Homo sapiens: one gene and its partners. The protein of the gene in region 4 purifies or fractionates together with the protein of the main gene of each other region. This does not show direct contact. Each region holds a gene or a part of one and is shown on either strand. Other genes may lie near its edges.

The links. Proteins that work in one complex are often made in the same cells at the same time.
Region 1: the proteins of INTS6 (region 4) and PPP2CB purify together in Homo sapiens (affinity purification with mass spectrometry; 3 studies listed by BioGRID and IntAct, with this or other methods). This does not show direct contact.
Region 2: the proteins of INTS6 (region 4) and INTS11 purify together in Homo sapiens (affinity purification with mass spectrometry; 3 studies listed by BioGRID, with this or other methods). This does not show direct contact.
Region 3: the proteins of INTS6 (region 4) and POLR2B purify together in Homo sapiens (affinity purification with mass spectrometry; 3 studies listed by BioGRID and IntAct, with this or other methods). This does not show direct contact.

What each region holds. Positions count from the first base shown.
Region 1 is NC_000008.11:30,788,819-30,792,318, reverse strand, and holds part of PPP2CB (serine/threonine-protein phosphatase 2A catalytic subunit beta isoform), read left to right. Parts: intron 1-1,003; coding exon 1,004-1,122; intron 1,123-3,500.
Region 2 is NC_000001.11:1,314,661-1,318,160, reverse strand, and holds part of INTS11 (integrator complex subunit 11), read left to right. Parts: intron 1-2,542; coding exon 2,543-2,641; intron 2,642-2,722; coding exon 2,723-2,757; intron 2,758-3,198; coding exon 3,199-3,337; intron 3,338-3,500.
Region 3 is NC_000004.12:56,985,396-56,988,895, reverse strand, and holds part of POLR2B (DNA-directed RNA polymerase II subunit RPB2), read right to left. Parts: exon of another isoform or gene 3,439-3,500; intron 2,543-3,438; coding exon 2,470-2,542; intron 1-2,469. UniProt on the Homo sapiens protein: Catalytic core component of RNA polymerase II (Pol II), a DNA-dependent RNA polymerase which synthesizes mRNA precursors and many functional non-coding RNAs using the four ribonucleoside triphosphates as substrates.
Region 4 is NC_000013.11:51,376,537-51,380,036, reverse strand, and holds part of INTS6 (integrator complex subunit 6), read left to right. Parts: intron 1-464; coding exon 465-575; intron 576-1,582; coding exon 1,583-1,798; intron 1,799-3,500. UniProt on the Homo sapiens protein: Component of the integrator complex, a multiprotein complex that terminates RNA polymerase II (Pol II) transcription in the promoter-proximal region of genes.

The DNA of each region.
Region 1 (3,500 bases), on a different chromosome or scaffold from region 4:
CTTTGGGAGGCTGAGGCAAGCGGATTGCTGGAGCTCAGGAGTTCGAGACCAGCCTGGGCAACATGGTGAGATCCTGTCTCTACTAAAATACAAAAAATTAACCTGGTGTGGTGGCACGCACCTGTAGTCCCAACTACTCGGGGCTGAGGCAGGAGAATTGCTTGAACCCAGGAGTTGGAGGTTGCAGTGAGTCTAGATCGCACCACTGCACTCCAGCCTGGGCAACACAGGATGTGTGTGTGTGTGTATATACACACATACATACACTAATGTATGTATATATATGTATACATATATACACACATGTATGTGTGTATACATATATGCACACGTATATATACACATATACACACGTATACATATATGCGCACACATACATGTATACATACATATATACGTGTATGTATATACACATGTATATACACATGTATACATATATGCACACACATATATACATATATACACGTATATATACATATGTATATACACATACATTAATTAGCATGTATGTATACACACTATATATAATACTATAGCTAATAATATGAATGAGATAGGCTCTAATAAAAGGTATTATTAGAAATAAAGAGATTATTGATGAAAACTGGCCCAGTTCTCTAGGAAGAAAGTATTCTAAATTTGTATTTACCTAGTAATAGCTTCAAAATATATAAAGAAAAAATTGGCATAATTCATGAGGGAAAATTGAGAAATTAATTATGATTGTGGGAGAAATTCAGTACACATCCTTGCCAAGATTTCAAGCATAGATACGGCAAAACAACAATTAGCGAGCTGCATTTAACAGACTCCTAGGCCCACGAATTGCACAGTATTCTTTACAGGTACACAAACTATTAAAGATGGAGACCTTATATAGTAATATAGACGACTACATTTCCACAGAGAGTACCTGTAGTTTTTGAGTTTAGTTTTTTTTAAATGTGTCTGTGTCAAAATCATAATATTATAATGAAATAATGAATTTGTTTTTATCCTGCAGGGATACAATTGGTGTCATGATCGGAATGTGGTTACCATTTTCAGTGCACCCAATTACTGTTATCGTTGTGGGAACCAGGCTGCTATCATGGAATTAGATGACACTTTAAAATATTCCTTGTGAGTAACTGTAAATTTTAATTGTATATACTTTCAGAAGGAAAATTTTAAATGTTAAAAATAGAAGATTTCTGTTTCTGAAATTGGATGAGGAGTATAGCAAAGCCCCTCTCCAGCAAAAATAACCATTAGCTGGAGAACATTATTTTTAAAAAATAATTTTTCAAAGCTTTTGGAAATTGTCCTAAGGGCATACAGCAGGTGGAGAAACAGTTAATTCAAGAAAACCTACTAAATCTCAGTAATAATAGCCGTAGTCTGTGGCATTTGAGCTATGACTTGCCCCCTCCAACTCCTCCCAGATCCCTCTCACAGAAACGACTACAGGCGCTCTACGCTGGGTTGGTATAGTCAGGAGGCTAAGGGATTCCCCCTCTTCATCAGCTCCCAGGGCTGGGGCTGTGGGTTCACTCCCAGAGATCAGATGCCAGCATATCTCACCTCTCCTAGTCTGGAGTTACAAAAGCTCTACTCCTGGTAGACACAGTCAAGCAGGCTGAGGCCCCCTTCCCTGCCCCAGCTCCTGGGGCAGAAGCTCTGCTCCAGGCATGCATGGCAGATGAGAATGCTGGGTTTCCCAATGCTGTTACCCCAGCACCTGCTTATAAACCAGGTGGTATCACTGAGCCTGCACTGGCACAGAAGTTCTGCTCAGGAGGAAAGGCAGGTCACAGAAGTTCCTCAGCTCTGCCTCAGAGGACTTATCTTACTTAGGTGATGGAGAATTCCAAATCTGAGTGCTTTGTGGAAAGCAGTAGATGTCATGGTGGAGACCAATTAAGAGGGCTGTAATAGCTCCCATGATACTAGGAGCAACATACAAAAGAGCAGAGCAACATGTTGTTCAACAAATAGCACCAGGGAAAAAGCCAAGAAGAGCCCTTCTGGGATCACAGTCAGCCCTGGGGGACAAGAAGGCTGTGCACATGCACTAGCCATACCCACTCAGGAGCAGTCAAGAGTAGGATGTGGGGTATTCATATAATATTTTCAAGCCACACATAGATTGTACTGAGTTGAATAATGTCCCCCCAAAAAAATTCATGTCCACCCAGAACCTCAAAATGTGATGTTATTTGGAAATAGGATCTTTACAGATATAATTATTAAAGATGAGATTGTACTGGATTAGGGTGGGCCTAAATCCAATTCGAATGGGATTTTAGTAAGAGGAAAAGAAACACACACAGGGGAGAATGCTGTGTGAAGCCAGAGATTCAAGTGATGCATCTACCAGCTAAGGATTGCCAGAGCCATCAGAAGCTAGGGAGAGGCTAGGAAGGATTTTTCCTAGAGCCTTCAGAGAGAGCGTGGTCCTCCCAGCATCTTGCTTTCAGACTTGTAGCCTCCAGAACTGTGAGAGGATAAATCCCCGTTGTATAAGCTATACAGTTCGGTAATTTGTTACGGCAGCCCCAGGAAATGGATAAGTAGATTGATCAACAAATGGTGTAACCATCACTAGTATGTGAGGCTTAAACACAACCTCTCATCATTGACTGAACGACATTCAGTTACTCTGATCCAGGAGCACCTCCTAGGTAGTCAGGCTTTAAAATAAAATCACACTCATCCCTGACAGTCTGGCAGAATATGTGCATGCCCAAGGTTATACCCTCTCTGGACTGAGTGCAGTATGAAGATCCAACTATTAGTCCCTGGCTGAATGGGAAGCCAAAATATAAACTCCTTCAGCTTTGATAGCAATCTGCAAGTCACATAACATTTCCGGTGGCCATTAGGGTGAGCTTTAAGATCTAACTGGCCAAGGGGGCTTAAGTACAATCTTTGATCAGTAAGTGGCTTATGCCTACCCAGAGACAGCCCCTCAGTAGCCAGGCTGTGAAAGATTAAAAGAAGTAAAAACGGTCAGGCACGGTGGCTCATGCCTGTAATCCCAGCACTTTGGGAAGCCGAGGTGGGCGGATCACCTGAGGTCGGGAGTTCAAGACCAGCCTGACCAACATGGAGAAACCCAGTCTCTATTAAAAATACAAAATTAGTTGGGTGTGGTGGCGCATGCCTGTAATCCCAGCTACTCAGGAGGCTGAGGCAGGAGAATCGCTTGAACCTGGGAGGCGGCGGCGATCACGCCATTGCAGTCCAGCCTGGGCAACAAAAGTGAAACTCAAAAAAAAAAAAAAAAAGTAAAAACATCCGAGCAGGGCCACAGGGGCTGCACACTATGGGGGAAGTAGACTTTACAGTTAGTTCAGCTAAGTCACTAAACAAAAATAATAAACCACCAAAAAGACAAGATCAGTCCCCAAGGACATGAATTCCAGAGCTACTGCAATATGTTATCTATAATGTCCAATTTTTCAACCACAGATTATAAGACATGGAAAGAACAAGGAAGTGTGACCTCTACACAGGAA
Region 2 (3,500 bases), on a different chromosome or scaffold from region 4:
CGGTGGCTCACGCCTGTAATCCCAGCACTTTGGGAGGCCGAGACAGGCGGATCACGAGGTCAGGAGATCGAGACCATCCTGGCTAACACGGTGAAACCCTGTCTCTACTAAACAAAATACAAAAAAATTAGCTGGGCGTGGTGCGGGCGCCTGCAGTCCCAGCTACTCGGGAGGCTGAAAGGCAGGAGAATGGCGTGAACCTGGGAGGCGGAGCTTGCAGTGAGCCAAGATCCCACCACTGCACTCCAGCCTGGGAGACAGAGCGAGACGCGAGACTCCGGCTCAAAAAAAAAAAATTTATTTGCCTGCAAATGGATTTACTTTATCCTCGTTCTTAAAGGACTTTTTTTCCCTTAGGTGTGTAAGATTTTAGGTTGACAGTATTTTGTCTCTGCACTTTGCAAACAACGTTCTGTCTCTGGGCATGGGCAGCCGTAGGGTCTGAGCAGGAGCCTTGGTTTTTGGTGCTTGTGCTCTGATGGGCTGACATGTATCCTCAGCCTGTTTAGAGTTTGAGGCCTCTTGGATCTGTGGCTTGAGGCCTTCATCATGTTTCTTCCAGTGTTGTTTCTGCCCCGTTCCTGCTCCTCCAGGGACCCCGAGAGCCTGACGTTCAACCTCTTGAAACTCCGTCATCTGTTTGTCTTTCCTGTTTCCTGATGGATATTCCCTCTGGTGTCTTTCAGTTCATGGATTCTCTTCTGGTTATGTGTCATATGGTGTTAAATTCATCTGTTGAATTCTTTTTTTTTTTCTTTTTTTTTTGAGATGGAGTTTCGCTCTCATTGCCCAGGCTGTAGTGCAGTGGTGCGATCTCAGCTCACCTTGAACCTCCGCCTTCTGGGTTCAAGCGATTCTCCTGCCTCAGCCTCCCGAGTAGCTGGGATTACAGGCGTGTGCCACCACACCCAGTTAATTTTGTATTTTTTTTTAGTAGAGACGGGGGTTTCACCATGTTGGTCAGGCTGGTCTTGAACTCCTGATCTCAGGTGATCCACCCGCCTTGGTCTCCCAGAGTGCTGGGATTACAAGAGTGAGCCACTGCGCCTGGCCAAAATTTTGTTTTTAAATTAGCCTGGCGTGGTGGGTGCGTGCCTATAGTCCCAGCTATTTGGGAGGCGGAGGTGGAGGCGGGAGGACGCTTGAGCCCAGGAGTTTGAGTGAGCCATGATTGCGCCACTGCAGCCTGGGTGACAGCCCCACCCTGTCTCTCAATTTTATTTATTTATTTTTTTTTGAGACACAGTCTCGCTCTGTCGCCCAGGCTGGAGTGCAGTGGCGCGATCTCGGCTTACTGCAACCTCCGCCTCCCGGGTTCAAGCAGTTCTCCTGCCTCAGCCTCCCGAGTAGCTGGGATTACAGGCGCACACCACCACATCCGGCTAATTTTGTATTTTTAGTAGAGACGGGCTTTTTCCGTGTTGGTCAGGCTGGTCTTGAATTCCCAACCTCAGGTGATCCACCCGCCTCAGCCTCCCAAAGTGCTGGGATTACAGGCATGAGCCACCGCACCCGGCAAGTTTTAAATGAATAAATTAAATTTAAAAGAAGTCTAGTTTTTTGCCAATTTTTGTTTTTGACACTCTCGCTCTTGTTGCCCAGGCTGGAGTGCAATGGCACAATCTCAGCTCACTGCAATCTCCGCCTCCCGGGTTCAAGTAATTCTGCCTTAGCCTACTGAGTAGCTGGGATTACAAGCACCCACCACCATGCCCAGCTAACTTTTGTATTTTTAGTAGAGACAGGGTTTCACCGTGTCGGCCAGGATGGTCTTGAACTCCTGACTTCAGATGATCTGCCCACCTTGGTCTCCCCAAGTGCTGGGATTAAAGGTGTGAGCCACTGTGCCCAGCCCAGTATTTTTTTGTTTGTTTTTACCGAGATGGAGTCCCGCCCCATTGCCCAGGCTAGAGTGCAGTGGCGTGATCTCAGTACACTGCAACCTCCACTTCCCAGGTTCAAGCGATTCTCCTGCCTCAGCCTCCTGAGCAGTTGGGATTACAGGCACGCACTTCCACACCTGGCTTACTTTTGTATTTTTAGTAGAGACGGGGTTTCACCATGTTGGCCAGGCTGGTCTCCAATTCCTGACCCCAAGGGATCCACCTTAGGCCTGGCCGCCAACATTCTGAACCTTGTCTTTTCTCTGTCATGTATTCAAAGTCCACGCTGGAAACTCCAATTTCAGGTCCCTTCAGTTTTTTGTCCGTTGTCTTTCGTTCTTTGTCCACGTTGCCCGTCCCTTGTGAACTGGATGCTGTGTGTGAGCAACAGGGACTGAAAAGCTCAGTGCAGTGCCCTCGCTCCCCGCCCCGCCTCCCTCCCTGCCCCCGCCCCCCTCACTCCCTGCCCCTGCCTCCCTCGCTGCCCGCCTCCCTCCCTCCCTCCCCGCCCCCACCTCCCTCGCTCCCGCCCCCGCCCCCTCGCTCCCCTTCCCCCACGCTCCCCACCCCCGCCTCCCGCGCTTCCCGTCCCCCGCCTCCCTCACTCCCCGCCCCTCTGCTGTGAGGACACAGCCTGAGCGCAGCCCTGTCCTCCACAGGTAGATGATGAGCTGGAGATCAAGGCCTACTATGCAGGCCACGTGCTGGGGGCAGCCATGTTCCAGATTAAAGTGGGCTCAGAGTCTGTGGTCTACACGGTCAGTGGAAGGGCTTGAGGCTTGGGAGGGGCTGCTGGGGTGGGAGGCACCCTCCTCATGGCATCCTTGATCGTTCACCAGGGTGATTATAACATGACCCCAGACCGACACTTAGGGTAAGTAGGCTGAGGTGTCTTTTTGTCCCGTGGGCCCCCCTGGAGCTCAGGACCCTTGCAGGTGTCAGGGTGCCAGCCCTTGAGTGGCCAGCCTGGCAGTGTCTCCCATGTCCTGTGCGGCCTGGAGAGCCCCCTTCGTTCTGGGCCCAAATGCGCGAAGGCACAGGGTCCAGGCAGGGGCCTCTGTCCCTCCTTCTCTCTCTTCCCAAGTCTCTGGGTGGGTGCCTCTGTCTCGCTCTTCCGAAGTGTCTGGGTGGGTGCCTCTGTCTCTCCTCTCTCTTCCCAAGTGTGCTGCCCACAGCATTTTACCAGCTGGCTCTTTCCAGCCAGAGTGACCTAGGAAGGCGGCTGGGCGTGGTACTGGGGTCCAGCTTGTCACACCCAGCCCTGCAACCGTGGGGACAGTGCATCGTGGCTCACACCCCCACCCCCGTGTTCCAGAGCTGCCTGGATTGACAAGTGCCGCCCCAACCTGCTCATCACAGAGTCCACGTACGCCACGACCATCCGTGACTCCAAGCGCTGCCGGGAGCGAGACTTCCTGAAGAAAGTCCACGAGACCGTGGAGCGTGGTGGGAAGGTAGCTGCAGCAGGGGTGGGGACATGGGCCCTCGGCCATGCTGGGCTGGTCTTTCTGGCAGGCTTGGCTGCCCTTGGCATGGGTCAGGGTCTCAGGGTGGGGGGTACTGCATTTTCAGGCAGGGAGGGAAGAAGATTTGCTCAACATTGAGGAGGAAAACTCA
Region 3 (3,500 bases), on a different chromosome or scaffold from region 4:
TATGTTGAAAACAACTTCTTTTCACCTAAGATAAAATATTTTTTCTACCGGGAGAATGTAGAATATAGGCACACTCCACAGAACATCTACCTGGTTATTGTTTCCTAATAAAATATCTCTTGGTGTTTAACACCCAAACATCACAGAAGATGTAACTGTCTCAGTAAAGTTTAGTCTTCTACAGCCAATTTGTTTTATTTTTTGTGTTTACAAAAGTTTACTCTTAAATGGCTCCAGGACAATGCTTCATTCTAGCTATAGGTGGCAAAAGATATTATGGCAGGGAATACAGATGTTTAAATACAAATGGAATCAAAGGTCACCATCACCTCAGGCACAATGAAAAGCTGACTTTTTGCCAGATTTCTCTTTTTTTCTTTCTTTAAAAAAAAAAGAGATAGACAGGGTCTGGCTATGTTGCATAGGCTGGTCTCAAACTCCTGAGCTCAAGTCATCCACCGGCCTCAGCCTCCCAAAGTGTTGGGATTACGGGCAGGTGCGAGCCACCTCGCCAAGACTTTTTGTCAAATTTCTTAATTCTACCTGTGGCCAGGGGCCCTTTCCCCACAGCCTTCTATTTTAAAGCTTTTTCTGCTCCTCTTTTTGTTTCTGCTTGAAAGCTGTATCTTCCTCGTCCATCTCCTTGGCCTGCTTCTTGGGCTGTTTCAGGGGCTTCTTGCTACCTTTGCAACCAAACATGGCAACTGCCGCCCCGGCCCCTTCTCCAAACCCTGCCACCAGAAACAGAGCTCCTATCCTCACCATCAACTCCTTATGGAAAAATATATACTTATATCCCAAAAACTCAATATATATTTTTTAATTATTTATTTTTAGAGACAAGGTCTCACTATGTTACCCAGGCAACACTCAAACTCCTGAGCTCAAGTGATCCTTCTGCCTCAGCCTCCCAGGTAGCTGGGACTATATAGGCACACACCACAGCACCTGGCTTTCAATACTTTTTTTTGTAAGATTCTGGACAACATGCTGAATCAACATCTTTTTTTTTTTGAGACAGAGTCTCACTCTGCCACCCAGGCTGGAGTGCAGTGACATCATCTCAGCTAACTGCAAACTCTGCCTCCCAATTTCAGGTGATTCTCCTGCCTCAGCCTCCCAAGTAGCTGGGATTACAGGTGTGCGCCACCACACCCATCTAATTTTTGTATTTTTTAGTAAAGACGGAGCTTCACTATGTTGGCCAGGCTGGTCTCCAACTCCTGACCTCAAGTGATCTGACTGCCTCAGCATCCCAAAGTGCTGGGATTATAGGCAAATCAGTATCTCTTTCACAAAACAACGTTCAAGAAAGGTTATTCAGTTATACTCTGAATACAACTGGCAGAATGTTGGAAGCATGTGTTCTTTGAAAAGAGAGAATGTTGACCAAAAGGACATGCACCTTGGAGCTGATGGGGCTCAGAGAGGCATCCATCATCATCTTATTGTATATAAAACAGGTGTCAGGGGATGAGAGAAGAGAGAGAAGAGTTATAAGCCTTTAACATCCTAACCTTACAGGATGTTACTTTATCACTTATAAGTTACTTTTCTTACCTATACAAGGCTTCTCGTAATTTTATTACATTTAGTTACACTTAGAATTGGATGGGAATTTGGAATGAAATACAACCAATTTTAACTTTGTCCATTTAAAATAATGAGAAAACCAAGCAATCAAATTAACATTACTAGTAATGAAACAAACATGCCTCCTGATATGATGCACTGAGACTATGTCACTTCTGCCAAAAGTAATCATCTGAATCTAATTATGAGAAATATCAGACAAACCTAAACGGAAAGGCATCCTAAAAAGTAACTGGCCCGTATTCTTCAAAAATGTCAAGGTAAAAAAAAGAACAGACACACTGAGGAACTGTTCCAGATTAAAGGAAACAAAAGAACATGCCATGACAAGTAAATGCAATATGTGATCCTAGGTTGGATCCAGGATCAGAAAAATTTGTATTTTGCTATAAACACCAGTGGGACAACTGGCAAAATGTGGGTAAGGTCTATAGATTAAATAAGATCACCATAATTGTGATTATGTAAAAGAATGTTCTTATGTCTGCAGTTATTCTTTTTTTTTTTTGGAAACAGGGTCTCACTCTATCACCAAGACTGGAGTGCAGCGGTGCGACCTTCGCTCACTGTAACCTCAACCTCCCAGGGTCAAATGATCTGCAAGTTACTCTCACATGTTTCAGAAAAAAATATATATATACAAAAAGAGAAAAAGACAAAGAAATGTAGTACAGGGTAACATTTTCGGAATCTGGTTAAAATGATTAAATGAATTCTTTGTGTAACTTTTAGATCTGAAATACTTAAAATGTTAAATATATAAATAAAATAACTACTCTCATGTAGCATATTTATATAGAAGAGCTATTTATCAAGAAGAATAAGCAGGAAATCTAAAGTGCCTTTTCAGGCTAATTCAGTTTGGTCCAAAGTTACCTGATTACAATCCAGCATGCTTCTTGCCACAAATCCGGGGTGATTTCATCATCATCCTCATCATATTGCATATCTGTAAAAACAAAAATATTGTACTCATTTGCAATGAGATGCCACTTAGTTAACATCTTGCTCCTATGACTTTAAGTAGCAGAAACATATTTACTTTCTGCTGAATAAGTAATGCTTTCACCCCACTTTTCTAAAATTTCAATTACATTAATAAAATAATTTATGTCTATGTCACACAGGTATTCTTCCAATATAAAAAGAGGTTTATTAGAAAGGTTCAATGTAAGTTGTATGAATGTTAAGTTTTCCATTTTATTGATCAGCAAGATTTTCAGACACTAGAGTCAGAGAACAGGGTAAGGGGGCAGAGCCATGGAAGGATTCCAACAACTGGGCAATACCCTAAGGTGGGGCAATCTATTATAGCAACATTTCATACATGTACAGGTATGAAAGTTTGCATTTTCCAAAGATGGCCACAAGCCTATCTCCCATCCGACATGGTCTTCTATAATGTGATCTTGACACTCCTATCATCACATATAGTGGTCTATGCACCCTCTCCTTGAATCGGGTAGATTTTGACTCTCCTGTAACTTAAGAGAATGCAGCTGAAGCAATGCTGCATGACTTCAGAAGCCAGGTCAGAAAAGGCAATGAAGTTTCTGTCATGTTTGCTAAAACACTTCCTTCTGGAGCCCTGAGCTGTCATTAAAAAGTAGGGGTGGCTCAGGCCTGTAATCCTAGCACTTTGGGAGGCCAAGGTCGGTGGATCACCTGAGGTCAGGAGTTCGAGACCAGCCAGGCCAATATGGCAAAACCCTGTCTCTACTAAAAAAGACAAAAATTAGCCAGGCAGGGTGGCACATGCCTGTAATCCCAGCTACTCAGGAGGCTGAGGCAAGAGAATTGCTTGAACCCAGGAGACAGAGGTTGCAGGGCCCGCCTCTCACTCACCGCCCGAAAGTCGGGGCCGCCCCACGGGGCGGCGGGGGGGAGTGCCATCCCCGCCTCGCCAC
Region 4 (3,500 bases):
ATGAGAAACTAAGCCACAGAGAGCCAGAGAGCTTATTTATAATCTGATCTAGAATCATATAACTAGTGAGTGGTTGAGCAGCTAATTACTCAAAAGTAGAAATCTTGCATTTTCCTTGAGTGTTTTTCACTTACTACCCATGTTTTATCAGAGCTACCTCTAGAATGTGTCTTCTGTCCATTTATTCCAAACCTAGTTTCTCCCAGTGGTACCAAGGAAGACCAGTATCTTATCCTTCTTGTCTTGGGGAGTTATTATGGCCTCTAATCCTTTTTAACTACTTCAAACGGCCTTTCATCCCACTGACAAACATTTTACTGAAACATAAATACGATTGTGTTACTTCCTTATTGAGGAAAAGAAGGGGAAATAATTTTTTGGAGAAAATTTTAAGACAGACTATACATGGAACCATAAGTTTTTAATAAGCTTAATATTGAATGATGTTTTCTTTTTTCCTATAGCCCTTGAAGAAAGCTGTTAGGATGATGGGAGCACCTAACCTAATAGCAGACAGTATGGAATATGGACTTAGTTACAGTGTCATTTCATACCTCAAAAAACTGAGTCAACAGGTAATATCAAGAAATAGAGTGAGCCATTAAGTATTTTGAATGGTTTTGGCTAGGATGGTTAAACAGGTTAAAAGCTAGTTCTTGATGGTTCTAATGGAATTCCATTATATTAATATATTACATTTTAGAGCCATATATTACATAATTCTGTCTCACATCCATGGTGTGCTATGTTTTGAAACATTAATTTGAAAATTATATAATAATTCCTAATTTATGAAAATGGCTTCATGAGTGTGGTCCTAGACTTGCTATATGTGAACATTATTTATCTTTTGAGAAATTTAGATTAGAAAGTCATTTTTCCTTAAAAAAGAAAAAAAAAACTCTTTATGTTTTGAAACCTGCAGATTTTTCTTTCAGAATGGGAGTTTCTTTGAAATGTTTGTAGAAAACACTGAATTTTGTCATTCTGGCCATAAGTCACATTAATAAATACTATAGTAGTCAAGCAGTATATAGTTTAACTGACTGTGAAATTATTAATGTCCTATGAAATACATTATTTCTCCAGTACTTCTGACATTGCTACCTTAACTACAAATCAAAAGGCAGTTTGGGAGGAGTCAAAACATTGCTTCTTGCTTTCCAGGGAAGAACTGCATAATTATTTGCCATATTGATGTGCTAGTAAAAATGTCTTACATAATGATGATTTTAAAAAAATAATTTACCGTCACCCCTGAATTGGGAATACACATTTTTGTTTAGTGTGCATTTATATTTCATGGTTTAGGTATAGTGGGTATTAATAAATAAAATAATAAATTGAAATTGTGTTTGTCCTGCTCCAAAAGTTTAGAGTTGTAATGATTTAAAATCATAAGACATTGTTGTTTAAACTATGTTTAATTTACCCAATACTTGACATAAACTATGCTACTTGAGTTTTTAACTTCTTATATACTTAAAAAATATATATTTAATTTATAGAAGATCATAACCATTAGTATCTGATTTATTAATTTAGATTTTATCAAGATAATTCTGACTTATTTTTACTTTAGGCCAAAATAGAATCTGATCGAGTCATTGGATCTGTAGGCAAAAAAGTAGTACAGGAGACTGGAATAAAAGTCCGGAGCCGATCACATGGTTTATCAATGGCATATAGGAAAGATTTTCAACAACTCCTCCAGGGAATTTCAGAGGATGTCCCTCACAGACTGCTAGACCTTAATATGAAGGAATACACTGGGTTCCAAGTTGCTTTGCTGAATAAGGTAATAATCATGAATTTAGTGCTACTCTAGTTATGTTCTGTTATGTTACTGGATAAATCACATTTTCTGTTAACTCTGACATTCAGTTTATCCAGACTTTAAAGAGTACTTCTGTACTCTTGTAGACTAATGATCATTATACTGTCACTGCTAGAATTAAAACAGTGTACATGGTGTGTGAATGAATGGATAGATTGATGAAGAGTAAACTAACTTGTTTATTTTATAGATGAGAAAACAGAGGTTTAGAAATTGCTTTAAGTTGCAGTAGTGGATGGTAGAATTCACTATAGTTTTGTACTTAAACTGATGACCCTATTAGACCCACAGCATGATCCAAAAATGCTTTGTGAGTACTCATGGTTACAGATATCTTTATCCCAGCAGCCTTTTTGTAGAAATAGGCAAGCTGATTCTAAAATTTATATGGAAATGTAAAGGTCCTGGAATAGCCAAAACAATTTTAGAAGAATAAAGTTGGAAGACTTATATCATCTGATTTTAAAACTTATTGTAAAACTTACTACAGTGATCCATGCAGTGTGGTGCCATCATAAGGATAAACATAGGAGATTAGTGGAACAGAATTGAGTCTAGATGTAGGCCCTCACACACACAGTCAATTCTTAACAAAGATATTAAAATAAGGTAGTGGATAAGAAGACAGTCTTTTAAACAAATGGAACAATTGGATATCCATATGCAAAATAATGAATTTGACCATTACCTCATATTATTTGAAGTGGTCGTGATCTTAAATGTAAGAACAAAAACTATAAACTTCTAGAAGAAAACATAGGAAAAAATCTTTGTGATGTTGAGTTAGCAAAGATTTCTAAAAGCACATAGCAAAAATGTTGATAAATTGAATTTCATTAAAATAAAAAATAAACTTTGCTCTTTAAAAGAAACATTAAAAATGAAGAGGGAAGCTACAGCTTGGGAGAAAAGCACATATCAAATAAAGGACTTGTATCAAAATATATAAAGAATTCATATAACTCAATAATAAAAGGACAAACATGGGCAAAATATTTGAACAGACATTTCACCAAAGAAAATATGCAAATACAAATAAGAACATGAAGTAACACTCAGCCTTATCAGCCATTAGGGAAATGCAAATTAAAACCATAACGAGATACTACTTCATAACTGCTAGAATGAATAAAATTTAAAAGACAAAAAATACAGGGATTGATGAGAATGTGGAGCAACCCTCCTAACATTACTGATAGAAAATAGTTGATATTTTCTTAAGAAGTGTAAACATAAATTTGCTGTACAATCAGTCATTCTACTTGTAGGCTTAGCATGCCAACATGGCAGCATTTTTCATAATAGCCAAAAACTTGTAACAGTCCAAGTGCCCATCAGCTGGTGAATAGATAAAGAAGATGTGGTGTGTCCATATAATAGACTACTACTCTGGAATAAAAAGGAACAAACTACTGATACATGAATAATGTCAATGAATCTCAAAAACATCATGCTAATTGAAAGAAGCCAAGTACAAAAGATTAGACGTTGCAAAATTCCATTTATAAAATGGAGCATAGAAAGAAAGCAAGTCACGTGGTTGCCTGGGGATAGGAATAGTGATTGACTGCAAGTGGGTACAACAAACTTGGGGATGGTGGAAATGGATTATGATGATGGTTTCACAACTATAAATTTACTAACATTCATCAAACTATATACT